2 separate regions of the Homo sapiens genome follow, and region 2 is linked to region 1. Evidence: fine-mapped expression QTL. Tissue or cell type: skeletal muscle. Region 1 holds a variant in brackets; the other region holds the start of a gene. All regions are shown on one strand. Distances are between the middles of the regions.

Region 1 (7,384 bases):
GTTCTCCGGAGAGGTGTTCACCTGAAGGCTGTTCTCCTGAAGGCTGCTCACCTACAGTATGCTCACCTTCAGCATGTTCAGTCGCAGCGGGCTCACCTGAAGCATGCTCACTCTCAGCATGTTCTCCAGAAGTGTGCTCGGCCACAGTGTGCTTGCTTGAACCATGCTCACTGGAACCATGCTCACTTAAAGTGTTCAGGCCTGAAGAAGTCTCATATAAAGCCTCAGCATCAGAAGGGTTTTCAAGTGAAAAGAACTCACCTGGAAGTTGCTGAACTGAAGTTTGATGATCTATGGAGCCAGAAAGCTCATTAGGCTGACTTGATGTTCCTGGGATGGAGAAGGAACAGAAGAGAGTTGGTGAAGCTGACAGAATGGGATAAAGACTATCTTCCTATGGAGTTAGGCTAATGTTATGAGACTCCTAGGTTTCCTATGGGCCTAGATTGGGCACCTGAAGACTGCAGATGTTGGGAAAAATCAACTAAGTATCCCAAAAGGCCATGGAGGACAGAAGTGTTTAGTGAAACAAACAGAGGCCACCTCTGGGATTGAAGGGAAGAATCTTAAGTTCCCCAATATTAAGAACTACTTAGGAGAATCCACTCATCCATGTACAAAAAACCCCTGAAGGAAAATGAATGTGCCTCCCTGACAAAGTCAGCATCAGGAAGTCAGGATACCATCCCTGATAGAATCAGAAGTTCGCCACCAACCCTCCCATTCCTCTATGGGTGAAAGACAAGAAGAGTAGAGATAGAAGAGGGAGAGAGAAAGCAAGTAGTTTTCAATACCTGAGTATTTGTAACCTAAATTAAGGGCGGAAGAGTTAACCTTTGGACAGGGATGACAAGTATGAGCCCACAAAAATTATCAGAAGGGATTAAGCCGCCTGTATTTGGTAATGTCAAGTATTTTCTCACACTCAATCCCCAATCCATGTGGGTTGGGGATTCAGAGAGCAAAGTTGCTATAAGCTATTAAGGTAAAAAAAAAAAAGTCTAGGCATATTATATATATATATATATATAGACACACACACATATATGAATTGTATCCTTGTGACATACCATTTACATTCACTTCATGGAGTTGTCCTGAGTACTTAATAAGATAAATTGTGAAGTGCACCATTGCCTAGTACTCAATTTTATTTTTCTTTTCTTCCCACCTTACACTGGGAATTACAAAACTCTTACATGGTTATTTTTTTCTGGCCAGTCTCTTCTACCTTTAATCCGTCTCTTTCTTTTTTTTTTTTTGTTTCAAAGATAGAGTCTCGCTCTGTTGCCCAGGCTGGAGTACAGTGGCACAATCTTGGCTCACTGCAACCTCCGCCTCCCGGGTTCAAGTGATCCTCCTGCCTCTGCCTCCCGAGTAGCTGGGATTACAGGTGCATGCCACCATACCTGGCTAATTTTTGTATTTTTAGTAGAGACAGGGTCTCGCCATGTTGGCCAGGCTGGTCTTGAACTCCTGACCTCAAGTGATCCGCCCGCCTCAGCCTCCCAAAATGCTGGGATTACAGGCATGAGCCACTGTGTCTGGCCAATCCATCTCATCATTGACTGTCAGACAAATATTCCTTAAGTATATTTTAAGTGAACAGAAGCACAAAACAGATAATTTGATTATTACTCTTTGATTAAACTGAGCCACCTAGAGGAAGACAAGTAGACTACAACAACCAAGTTATTTAATTCTAGCCAAAAGCTGAGAGGAATTATTGGATCTTTGAGGCTGAGGTAGTCTAAAACCCCAGAGTACTCAAAACTCTAAGAATCTTGCGATAGATATATTTTCTTGGCACAGTGCAGTACTTACAATCAGTGACTTTCTAAATGACTAGGGTGAGAATATGTTGATAAAGGAAAGGTAAGATTTAGTAAAGCTTTTAGGAGGTTTTTATTTTTTAAACTTATTACATAAATACTATCTACTTGACTGGTTTTTCAATAATTAACACAAGTTTTGATAAAGAGATGTTTCTGATATAGAAAGGAGACATAAAAAGCATGCTAATTTCTTGATCTTATAGTTTATGACTCGTGTCACCATGTGACTGGCACATACTATCACCTGGTGGCTGTGTATCTACATTTTTGAGTCAACTTTTGAAGGTCTAACAAAGCAAAAAGCAAAACCTCTGACAGTCGACATTATAGAAAATACATTGTTTTTTCACTGAAAGCTCAGAGCTCATGGCCTCTTTCTGCTGTAGGAGGCAGGAGGGAACACAGCACACCATGAATGGGGGATCCCAAAAGAAGAGATGATACAGAAAACCTGATTGATATAACACAGCCATGAAGAAGAGGCTTATGAAGTCTCTGGCCTATAGCTCTGTCGTGTTCTGAGGTTGTTTTCTGAACACATTACATCTTCCCATCTCCCATCTTTCCTTGGCACATTAACCACACAAGGATCCCTCACATTTAATTGGTGGGACAAACCTTCATTGGGCTTCTACAGAACCCCTAAGCCTACTTTTTCATCTCATGCAGCATCAGGTATAAATGTTGAGTGGCTAAAATAAGTAGAAACCAGACTGTGCCAAGCCAGTGGGACCCTCTGACTGTAAAGCTATGACTAGAGAAATCAACTGGTTCAGGAGCTCTCCGAGTTGGACTTGTTTAGCTGCTCTTGATTCTGACTCAGATTGGTTTGGGTGACTGAGAGACTGGTCTTCCTTCTTCAAGGCCTGAAATGTCTTAAGGGAGACCCCTTTTGTATTTACCTGAAGCCTAGATCAAACACTCACCTCTGGCAGATCCAAGCAGATAAAGACTCATTAGCAAGAGAAACCTGTTCATCTGGATTTAGGAAAAGAGGGGACCCCAGTGTGGGCCACAGCTTCTTCACAGAGCTATGAAGCAAACTGCGAGCAAAAGCTTCCAGTGCTGAAGCAGAGCTTCTGGGAATTCTAGAACCTCAGAAGTAACCCATGTTTCTTCACAATGGGTTGGGCTCTGAGGTTCTTGTGTAGCCTGTTCAGGCAAGTTGGCCCTTAGCAACCCACTGCTTATTTCACTAGTGAAGACCAATGATTATTTTCTGTGTGCAGGGTAGTGTGTTGGGGCTATCTGCCCTATCTT[T/TA]AAAAAAAAAAAAAAAGTATTACCAAAAAGCACATATTTTTTGTAATAAAGTTTAAAAGATATCTACTGTCTTTTAAAAGTGTTTTTGACAATGAGATGTAATTGTTGATTGTTTTCTGTTTGGCTTTCTAAATCAGCCTTTCTTGGCTCTGATCTGTACCCTGGAAGGTTGACCTCTGTTGACTTTATCACCTGAATGCTGGCTGGATTTGGCTTCAGATTGGGTTTATACAGGATTGGAGGGGAGAAGAGAGAAAGAGAGAGAGGAAGAGGGAAGGGAGGAATGGGGAGAAAGAGAGCGAGACTGGAATATTTGTTCTTCCTATTCCCTTCCTGCCACAGTTGACACTGGCTGAGTCTACATGACAGAGCTTCTGTTGGGTGTCCTCTCTTCCATGGCTCCAGCTCTCATCCATGCTATGGTAATATGTTTTTCTCCCCCTGCCCTCTTAGGCCTAGGGATGATAATGGTTTCCTGCTGTTACTAAAATCTGGATGCCCAAACTTATCTCTTTTTTTGTTTGTTTGTTTCCTTAACCTTGCCCACTTCTGTAAATAGTCTTTTCATACAGACCTTTATCAACATGGTTTTAGCAGGAAACAGGTGGCAAACTCAAATGGGTAACTGAGGAGAGTTTACACAGATATGGGCAGAGTAAAGAGATCAAGAGACAGTAGAAAGCTGCGTTTTGAGCTGCAACTTGGTAGCAAGGGGGTGGCCAAGCTGAGAAGATGGATGCAGTGAGGCATCCACCTGATATAAAACTAGAACTTATGGAGGATTGAGTGGCAAAGATCTGGTAGCTTCCATTTCTCGCTGCTTCTCTGCTCAGCTCTCTTGAACAACTTTGTTTTATATACCACTGAATGCTAAATCTAGAATAGATGTACTTATTGTTACATTTTGAAAGGAAGGTGAGGGTTAAAGAAAGAGAGAGTGGCGGCTCTACATCAAATCCAGGCTTTCTGTCTAGCATAAGACCTACAGAGGTGGGGGACTAGCTTAATGCCAGTGCCCACTGCTTCGTACAGGTTGGGGTACTTGTAGGTATGAGCAGGACGGGTCTGGGCAGTATGGCTTGCTGCCTGGGAAGATGTTCCCATAATGAGGCATTTTGGCCCTTGTTCCCGCAGAATGTGATGCTGATGTTCCTTGGACTTTTTCCCAGCAGAGTGTGATAAAGTCAGGGAGGCAGTTGGACAGGCTGTTTCTAAGGGCCCAAACCCCCGTGGAATGCTTCACTTTAGCCAAGGTCTGCAAAATGGCGGGGGTCGGTGGGGGTTACGAAATGGTGCAGTTTGGACTAACACTTTATCACTGTTATAATTATTTGTTTCATGTTTGTACTCCCCGTTGGACTCTAAGCTTGAATGCAGAGACCCTGTCTTGACTATTGTTGTAGTCCCAGTACCTAGCAGCATGCCTAAGCTTTTCCTGAAGGAAGGAAGGAATGAGTTACCTTTTGGGGCCTCTCTCTGCCTCATAGAGGAGAATTTATAGAGAATCATGTAAGAGAATCTATAGAAGAGAATCTGGATTAAGGTTCTGGGTTAGTTGAAGACAGCAAGATCACCAGGGATCAAAAGTTACTTGACTTGAGTTAGAGGATAAAGCTAGGATTTCTGAGCCTCAGGCAGGTTCCTTTACAGTAGAGAAAGGTATGAAAGAGCATGCTATCAATAATTCTTTTCCTCCAGGATGAGTTTGGAAGAACAGCTATGAGCCTTGGGTCTGACTTTTGTTGATAGAAGCAGTGGAAATTAGTAGAAGGGAAGAGGTGCTATCTATTCCACCCTAACTTAGAACATAGAAAGACAGACAGTGGGCTCTGGAGAGCTGATGCTTTCAGCTGAAAACAATTGTTTTTAAAAATTCCCTATGTAAATTTGCTTCAAAATAACCTAAATGAGGGATTGTAGCAATGAACGGGGAAAGAAGATAAAATAAGACTGGACACAGTGGCTTGTGCCTGTGATCCTAGCACTTTGGAAGGCTGAGGCGAGCAGATCACCTGAGGTCAGGAGTTCAAGACCAGCCTGGCCAACATGGTGAAACCCCATCTCTACTAAAAATACAAAAAAATTAGTCGGGCATGGTGGCGGGCACCTGCAATTCCAGCTACTTGGGAGGCGAAGGCAGGAGAATCGCTTGAACCTGGGAGGTGGAGGTTTCAGTGAGCTGAGACTGTGCCATTGCATTCCAGCCTGGGCAACAAGAAAGAAACTCTGTCTCAAAAAAAAAAAAAAGAAGATAAAATAAGATTGGTCCTGTGTGCATGATTGTTGAAGCTGTGTGATGGGTACATGCGGGTACTCTCTACTTTTGTATATGTTTGAAACTTTCTATACTGAAAATCTTCAGGGTGGAGGGCAGAAATACCTATTTGGAAAGCCTAGATAATCAATGCCTTATTTAAAATAGCTTCAGGGGATGATGGAGAAGTCTTTTTAATATGTGTGTGCATTAAGACCTAGATAGGAGCTTAACTGCTCCCTATTATACAACTATCCTACACCCAGGGCTGGCTTCCTGAGCAGGCGCATGGGCCCACACTCAAAAGGGCCCTGGTTTCTTGCTTTGCTTTCAATCTCTGGAAATTCTTCGTCACTTTCTAACAAAGGCGCCTCATTTTTGCGTTGCACTGGGTCCCACAAGTGCTGTCTCCAGTCCTGCCTAGATCTCATTTTCCAGTCCCCTTAGGTATATCACCGTCTGGTATTGGAAAGCTTTGGCCTCTGAAACCAGGTTGAGGAAGCTTTCTTTTAGGAAGAGCTGGGGCACACCTAAGTCCAGGCTGCTGGCTTCAAGCAGACATTCCTCCCCTTCTTGCACTCTTCCCTACTTGATAAATATGTTCCCATATAAGTTTGTTGTGCTCTGATTTTTAGTAGAAGCCTTCTCAGAAACATCCCTTCCAACCTCTCCCTCTACTCCTTAGATTTCCTCAGGTTTGATGCTTTGCTAGAAGGACTTACAGAACTCAGGAAAGTGCTTTACTTATATTTACCAGATTATTCTAGAGGACACAGCACAGTAACAGCCACATGGAAGAAATACATAGGAAAGGTATGTGGCGGCAGGTGGGGCGGGGAGGTGGTTGGGTGCAGAGCTTCCGTGGCCTCTGTGGGTGGGCCATTCTCCCAGCACATCAGTGTGTTCATCAACCCAGATGGTCTCTGAATCCTGTTTAGAGGGTTTTATGGAGGCTTCATTACATAGGCAAAATTGATTAAATCATTGGCCATTTGTGGAGCTGAACTTCTCAACCCTTGAATCATGGGATTGGTTTCTCTGATGACCAACCCGTACCCTGAAGCTACCTAGGCCCACTTCATGAATCATCTCATTAGCATAAAAAGACAGTTCCAAGGGTATTAGGATCCCTGTGCCAGGAACCAGGAGCAAGGACCAAATAGATATTTTTATGATGTCACAAAGAAATTCCCAGGATTGCCATGAAGGAAGGCCTCAGCATGATTGCTGTGCAGCTGGGGTGGAGACAACCCTCCCAGATAAGGGCAGGAGAATGAATGGCCCAAAGTGGAAGTCTCCAGAGAAATAATAATATATTATCTGATAGCTCCGATGACAGCCATGTACAAATGTGTACTGAGAAGCTCTTGGAAGGTGGGGAAGCTTAGCCAGAAGCATAAAATTAATTGAGCAAATGATAATGTAATTATTATTTGTAGGAAAAAGAATATAAAATCATGTAATAAAAAATGTCATCCTAGTACTCATTTTATTTCACTTGTGAATACTATTTAAATATCTACCAGTCAGGGCCCACTTGCAGGACACAGGAGCTTGTCTGGTGAGTTACCTTCAGCAGAAAGGTATTAGGTTGGTGCAAAAGTAATTGCAGTTTTTGCCATTCTTTTTTCTTTTTTTTTTTAATGGCTGCCACCTCTATCACAATCAGGAAAGTCACTGTAGAGTGTCAGGCAGCTTCCACAGGAACTGTTGGCTTCAGGAGGGCACCACTGTGTGAGCCAGGAATCAGGAGTGGGCTGCCACTAGGACTTGTAGCTGTATATGCACTCCACGCATGCTAGACGGGCATTGGCAAGACATGGTGTCTTGTTCCTCTTCTCTCACTATCATAAAGCTGGTACCTGGATGTAGAATGCTGCTTCTGCAAAAACAACCAACAAAATAAAACACAAAACACCTCACAAAATTCCAACATATTCTCAAACATCGGAAAACTATAGACATAGCAGAAAGATTGTAATACCTAACCTTGTTTTAAGACTCTCCCTTAGCTACCTAACCTTGTTTCAATATG
Region 2 (7,384 bases), 110 kb before region 1:
TTCTTTTAGCAACCACAGGCAAAACAAAGAGGAGCACTACTTTAATAATGACAATACACAACCTAAATTTAAATGAGAAGACTTTTGTGATCCATAATGGAACACAAATATGGTAGAGGAAAGGGTGTGGAATCGGGCGTTAGACAAACCTGGTTGGAGTTTTTTTTTCTTAATAGGAAGGCATGGAATTTTTTTTTAAATCAGCTACAACAGCTACTCAGGAGGCTGAGGCAAGAGGATTGCTTAGGCCCAGGAGGTCAAGGCTTCAGTGAGCCATGATCATGCCACTGTACTCCAGCCTGAGTGTCAGAGTGAGACTCTATCTCAAAAACAAAAAAAAATAGTGATAATTTTTCATTACAACACTTAAATTGTTGTTGAAATAATAAATATAAAAGGCTTGGTATAGTAGATGCTTAATAAATCATAGTATCTCTCTCTCCTAGAAGATTCCAAGGCTGGAAGCTAGGAGATCTGGCCCCTAATGATGCAGGATTTTTCTTGGCCCCTTTGACAAACTCATGGAAGGGGGCGCCTTGTCTACCAGGCCCACCACAATCAACCACTTGCAGGAGGGAGCACATGAGCAAGCAAGTTCAAGATCCAGCCAGCCACTCTGGGCACTGGCACAGGAGCAAGCTCTGTGTGGGGCCTGTGGCCAGACCAGGCATGTTGCCTCAAGAGGAACACTGCAGTGCCCAGGTGAAAGTGCCCATGACCCTGAAGCCTCAGAGCGGGTGTTACAGTGCTCCTTTAGTTTCATCATCCACAAACAGCAGTGTGTTAGTAGCTCAGTTGGCCCTTTGCCTTGTCACGTGGGGCAGCTGCCTTCCACTGGTGGGGGCAAAGGACCAGTGTGACAGCCTTTCTGGGTACCTGTACTTGGTGGGTCCCAAGCTCTTGTCCAGTGTCCAAGAAGAATGAGGTCACATGCAGGATTGAAGGATGGCGGGCCAGGTGCGGTGGCTCACGCCAGTAATCTCAACACTTTGAGAGCCTGAGGTGGGTGGATCACCTGAGGTCAGGAGTTTGAGATCAGCCTGGCCAACATGGTGAAACCCCATCTCTACTAAAAATACAAAAACTTAGCTGGGCGTGGTGGCAGGTGCCTATAATCCCAGCTACTTAGGAGGCTGAGGCAGGAGAATTGCTTGAACCCAGGAGGCATAGGTTGCAGTGAGCTGAGATTGCACCATTGCACTCCAGCCTGGGTGACAGAGCAAGACTCTGTCTCAAAAAAAAAAACAAAGAAAAAAACAAAGAAGGATGTTGAGGGCAGAGAATTTTTTTTAGTGATGAAAACGAGTCTCAGCAGTGAGGGGAGCTGGAGAAGGGACAGGAAGGGCAGGTCGTCTTCCTCAAAGTCAGGCGGTCTCCCACTCTACTGACTAAGTCAGGGGTCCTTATAGGCACAGGATGGGGAGTATGTGCAGATTGGTTTGTGGCTATGCAAGAAAGGTTAAAGCAAAGGCACCACTCAAAGGTGGGCACAACAGTGTAGAAAACCAATCAGGAAAGGGTAGGTATATGTAAAATAGGTGAAGGGTGGGGATCAATCAGAGGAAAACATGCAAGACAGGAAGACAAGTTCTCAATCTGGTCTGAGGACTTAACTTGTAGCTTGGCTTTCGAGCTTTAAACTGTTTTTGGCTTGGAGGTGGGGTTTCAATGGGGACCCGCCACTAACTGCCTAGGCATTTGGCTGTCTCCTGTCGCTATCACTAGATCTAGTATTGTTATCATTTCACTAAATCATATATCCATACAGTTAAAAAACACCTTCATATATATACCATTTATTTCAGCAGCCTGTGTTAAAGAAACTAAGGTTTGGGCCAGGCGTGCTGGCTCACACCTGTAATCCCAGCACTTTGGGAGGCCAAGGCGGGTGGATCACGAGGTCAGAAGATCGAGACCATCCTGGCTAACATGGTGAAACCCCGTCTCTACTAAAAATACAAAAAATTAGCCGGGCGTGGTGGCGGGCACCTGTAGTCCCAGCTACTTGGGAGGCTGAGACAGGAGAATGGTGTGAACCCGGGAGGTGGAGCTTGCAGTGAGCCAAGATAGAGAGACACTGTCTCAAAAAAAAAAAAAAAAAAAAAAAGAAACTAAGGTTCACAGCTTAACTGGAGGTCATGTCTTCTCAAAGTGCTCTGCCACAAACTTCCTCATTTGTGAAATTTGGAAAATAATATCCTCTACTTGTCCACAAATAGCATCTAATCATACATAAGCATGTGAGAGCTCTTTAAAAATGCAAGGTATTAATTATTATTGGTTTTTATTTTAAATGTGGTTATACATGTTGAGATTTAAAAGATTTCCTCCCGGCCAGGCGCAGTGGCTCACGCCTGTAATCCCAGCACTTTGGGAGGCTGTAGGTGGGCGGACCACGAGGTCAGGAGATCGAGACCATCCTGGCTAACACGGTGAAACCCCGTCTCTACTAAAAATACAAAAAAATTAGCCATGCTTGGTGGCAGGTGCCTGTAGTCCCAGCTACTCAGGAGGCTGAGGCAGGAGAATGGCGTGAACCCAGGGGGCGGAGCTTGCAGTGAGCCGAGATCGCACCACTGCACTCCAGCCTGGGAGACAAAGACAGACTCAGTCTCAAAAAAAAAAAAAAAAAAAGATTTCCTCCCATGAAGTAAGCCAGAATAAACTCATACCTACTAAATTCTTTCTAAAATCTTTTCTAAATTGACACTCTTGAGAAAGAATAGAGCTTGGAGGAAGAGCTATTATTATAATTAATAGCACAATAATCAGTTTGTCATTAAACCACTTAGGTCTCTTTGTAACAAGATTTCTAAGCTTTAGTAGATGGATTCCTTATTCTATTCTATTTTATATTGTTTTGTTTTGTTTTATTTTATTTTATTTTTCGAGACAGTCTAGCTGTGTCACCCAGGCTGAAGTGCAGTAGTGCGATCTCGGCTCACCGCAACCTCTGCCTCCTGAATTGAAGTGATTCTCATTCCTTAGCCGACCAAGTAGCTGGGACCACAGGTGTGTGCCACCATGCCCAGCTAATTTTTTGTATTTTTAGTAGAGACGGGATTTCACCATCTTGGCCAGGGTGGCCTCAAGTGATCTGCCCGCCTCAGCTTCCCAAAGTGCTGAGGTTACACGCATGAGCCACCGTGCCCAGCCACTTATTTTATTTCATTTTTTAAATTTATTATTATTATTATTATTTTGAGACTGAGTCTTGCTCAGTCGCCCAGGCAGGAGTGCAGTGGTGTGATCTCGGCTCACTGCAACCTTCATCCCCTGAGTTCAAGTAATTCTCCTGCCTCAGCCTCCTGAGTAGCTGGGACCACAGGCAGGTACCACCACACCTGGCTAATTTTTGTTATTTTAGTAGAGATGGGGTTTCGCTATGTTGGCCAGGCTGGTCTTGAACTCCTGACCTCGTGATCTGCCTGCCTTGGCCTCCCAAAATGCTGGGATTAAAGGCATCCTGTTACTAATTTCACAGGATTTTAGAAACGCAAGCAGCGTTGTGGAGTCAATGGGGGAGGGCAAAGAACAGGAGGAGAGATCTGTGAGAACGGGATCGGCGAGGAGGCGACGGGGAGGAGGCGACGCGGAGGGGTGAGGGGTCCTCTCCGCCGCCAGGCGGAGTTGGGAGCCGGACGATCCCGCACGCAGCGCGAGGCGGGACCCCGGACTGACTACATTTCCCAGTCTCCGTCGCTCCGCGCGGCCCACCCCTTCGGCTCTGGGCCCCGCCTCGTGGTGCCGGCTGGTTCTTCGCGCTCGCCCGACTTCCCAGCGGCCCCGTGCGGCCCGGGCATGCCCAGTGCGGGCGCAGCGGCCCCGGCCCTGGAAGCGCCCCGGCGGAGCTGGCCTGCGGTGGGCTAGGGGCAGGGCCGGAGCCGCGGCGGCGGAGCTGTGGGTAGGTGCGGGCTCAGCCGAGCTAGGCCTCGGGGCCGCCGCGCCGCCCATTCTGAGTGGCAGGGACCGGGAGGGCAGGCAGGGCCCGAGCGTGGGTTGGTGGGGCTACCGGCGAGGACCCCTTATGGGAAGGGGCCGGAGGGAGCGGGACGGGGCCGGGCACATCCCCGGGCGAGGCTGCCCCAGGTGCGGCGCAGCTATCTTTAGCTCCCTGTGTGACCCGGAGCGTGCGTGATCCGCACCTCGCGTGATCCGTACCTCGTGCACAGTTGTGCCTAGGGAGACCAGTTTTCTGCCGAATTGCCTAGGAGCTGTGGGGAGATGGGCCTGAATGGACCCGTGGACTCAGAGGCAGCCCGTGGAGCCCCGTGGGAAGTGAGGATGTTTACCTTCCCTGTACCTGGAGTGGGCTACGACAGCTTCCTGTTTGCCGAGACTTGGGTTTAGTGACTTAGAAATAAAAGTGTGTCTCAGCAGATGCTTATTAGCTTCTAATGACTGTTGGGAATTTAATGGCATTTGTATTTCCAGGTTTGAGAGGTTATTTGTCCATGGGATGCTCGTGTTAAAACAAAAATCTTCATTGCAAAGCTTAAGTAAAAACAAGTCTCGACCGAGGTAACGTTAGAACACCGGGTTCTGAGGTTCACTGTAGCTGCCATTCATTTGCTGTCAGTCTGGGCAAGTCATTTAACTTCTGAGACTGGGTTCTCTCACCTGTTAAATGAGCCAGATGCATCTTCATCTGTCTAGCTCAGCTGTAGGATTCCCCCTGTGTCATTCAGTCTGTGTGTGTGTTCTCAAATTGTGGCAGGTTATTTTTCCCCATGCCTCAGCTATTTGTCAGACTGGGTAATTCACCAAATATTCCTGTAGGAAGGATGTTAGGATCTAAGTATAAAAGTGAAGTGATTTATCCTTCATAGGTCACTCTTAGGAGGTGTCCTGCCACTTGGTACATGCAGAAACCAGGTGTTAGCTGGCCAGGGATCAAATGACACAGCTGTTGTGGACTGAGACAGAATGTTTCAGGTTCCCTGTCAGTTCCCTGTGAGAAATCCAGGCCAAGTAATGGGCTTCCTTAAACCTCCAAGCTGGCTCACTTTGGTGGGGTTGTGTTTATATAGAATTTTAAGTTTTTTTCATGCTGTTGTGCCCTATTAGATGCAAGAAACCTATGAAGAAGTTTAGTACCCTTAATTTATAGATGAGCCAGTGGCAGGTTACGGGAGTGGATCTGTGAGTCTTTACAAACTAGTGTCGTGCATATCACTGAGCCTTTGCTAGTTATCTAGCTCAGCTGCCCTCACCTCAACCCTGAGAACATGTCTGTATGGCTGTACCTACGCGACTGGAACTCTGAGGTGTTTGTTTTCAGGAGGAAACAGTGGGAGTATTAACAGAAGTTTCTTACCCTAGAGACTTCTATCCGAAGTGAGCCTATCTGTGTAGGATTTGACCTAAGGAGCAGAGGGTATATACAATGTTGGGCAAATTGCCTTCCTACTGCCATATCCCCTGCTCTTCCAGTTCTGAATGGCATTAGTCCAGTTGGGTCAATGAGGAGCAGTTTGGTGAAGTGGTTAAAGGTCGGGGAAAGTGTGCTTATATTTTGAAATTTAAGGTTTGTACAAGCTGCTTGTGAAATTCTGTCTTTGTATTATGGTCATACCTCTTAAACTGAGAATACTGCAACTTGATTGAGTGAGTGTTGAGAACTTTAGAATATCAGGTTCTTAAAAAATGCCTGAAAGTGGGTTTTCTATTCATCTTAGAAGTCACCACAGATTAAATGAGAGAATAGTATATTAATTACAAGTATTTCTCACATGAACTCTCAAGTTCTTAATTTTTGAAACTAGATATCCCATTCACCTGAGAAATAAAATGGGAAAGCCTTACTGTTTTAAAGACTGTTTATACATATGAACTTTTTTGAGGCCTAGTTTAAAATCCACTATTTATTGCATGTTTATTAAAATTGTATCTGTATATATTTAAAGTTAGAAAACAGAAAAGACCAGCCGGGCGTGGTGGCTCATGCCTGTAATCCTAGCACTTTGGGAGGCTGAGATGGATGGATCACCTGAGATCAGGAGTTTGAGATCAGCCTGGCCAACATGGCGAAACCCCATCTCTACTAAAAATACACAAAATTAGCTGGGCGTGGTGGCGGGTTCCTGTAATCTCAGCTACTCGGGAGGCTGAGGCAAGAGAATCACTTGAACCTGGGAGGTGGAGGTTGCAGTGAGCCGAGCCCAGTGTTGCACTCCAGCCTGGGCAACAAGAGCGAGACTCTGTCTCAAAAAATAAAATAAAATAAAAAAGACCTATTTGGAGGTTTTGGTACGCAATTTCATGTCATACCTTAAACTTTACTGTGCCCGAGGGCTCTGTATGACTGAAGCATGTATTTAGTAATTTTTGTAAGAACTTTTATCTTGCTCTTGTATTTTCATTCAAGTATTTGAAGGTATCCAGCAAACATAAAAATTGCTTAAGAAGATATTGAAATGTAATTATCTTCCATCTCCAAACCCTCAAAAGTGCTTAGAATGTGTAGGAGGGATAGTTAGGGGCATTGAGGCTCAGAGGAGGTTACTGGTCAAGAGCACATTGTAAAAATGTAAAATGTAAAAATGAGAGGGTGTAAAATGTAAAACCCCTTGTAAAAATGAAAGGGTGGTGAGTGTTTTAGAAAAAAAATAGGGATTTTAGGTTTCAGCTGTACAGGAATAGCTTCACTTGATTCACTCTATTAGTGCTAGAATCTACTGCTATCTTACTAGAGCTACAAGTATGTGAGGTCATCATGTGGAAATGTGCATGAAGTAACTTATCTTTAAAATAAATATTTGCCTCCATTATGTTCCATCTGTTTCCAGATCCTTCATGATGAGAGATTTGGGGACACTTCTCTCTCCTGTGTGTAGTTGATAGTTTGGTGGTGAAGAGATGGCTGACAGTGTCAAAACCTTTCTCCAGGACCTTGCCAGAGTGAGTACATCTTGTTTATAGGAATTCATCTCTCGGCCTTTTTTTTTTTTGCTGAAGGAACCATCTAGGAAATCCTTTAGGGTTTTTGGAACTTTTATCATATTTCTTGGGTTCTTTACATAAAGGTTGTTATTCTAGACCACACTACTCAAGAAATAGGTATTGTTCTACATCTTGCAGACAGTCTTGCAGGTGCTTGGAAGACCTCTTCGGTGGATGTCTCCAGTATTGGGACCCTAATCATCTTGGCTTCAGAGCTTTTTTTTTTTTTTTTTTTAACTTTTTATTTTGGAATGTGTTTAGATTTACAGAAAAGTTATAAGGTAGTACAGAGAGTTCCTGTATGTCCTTCATCAGCTTCCCTTAATGTTAACATATAACCGTGGTATATTTGTCAACTAAGAAATGAACATTGGTTCAGTACTATCACCTAAACTAATTAATTCAGATTTAAATTAGAGAACCTATCTTTTTTTTTTCCCAA

Which allele goes with the higher level. Positions count from the first base shown, and alleles are read on the strand shown. Sizes are in standard deviations (SD) of each study's normalised expression.
As copies of T replace TA in region 1, the expression in skeletal muscle of the gene that starts at base 3,808 in region 2 goes down (moderate effect, 0.47 SD a copy in FUSION).

The links. PIP is the estimated chance that this variant, and not a neighbour inherited with it, causes the effect. A credible set is the group of variants that fine-mapping cannot tell apart.
Region 2: it holds the start of EI24, and the variant in region 1 is the best candidate, but not a certain one, in a credible set for the expression of EI24 in skeletal muscle (FUSION, PIP 0.58).

Annotation. Positions count from the first base shown.
Region 1 is chr11:125,677,968-125,685,351 of GRCh38, forward strand. ACRV1 (acrosomal vesicle protein 1) reads right to left here and starts at 2,880. Exons shown (of 4, transcript NM_001612.6): 1 at 2,762-2,880; 2 at 1-330. The coding sequence starts at 2,813. LOC105369551 (a long non-coding RNA gene) reads left to right here and starts at 5,352. Exons shown (of 2, transcript XR_007062934.1): 1 at 5,352-6,162. It also overlaps a transcript of CHEK1 not described here. The variant T/TA (reference allele first, on the strand shown) is at 3,096.
Region 2 is chr11:125,565,670-125,573,053 of GRCh38, forward strand. It overlaps EI24 (EI24 autophagy associated transmembrane protein), which reads left to right and starts at 3,808. Exons shown (of 11, transcript NM_004879.5): 1 at 3,808-3,904; 2 at 6,789-6,900. The coding sequence starts at 6,859. STT3A-AS1 (STT3A antisense RNA 1) reads right to left here. Exons shown (of 4, transcript NR_132372.1): 3 at 4,621-4,773; 4 at 2,439-2,449. RefSeq lists enhancers at 3,472-3,973, 4,476-4,525 and a silencer at 3,476-4,035.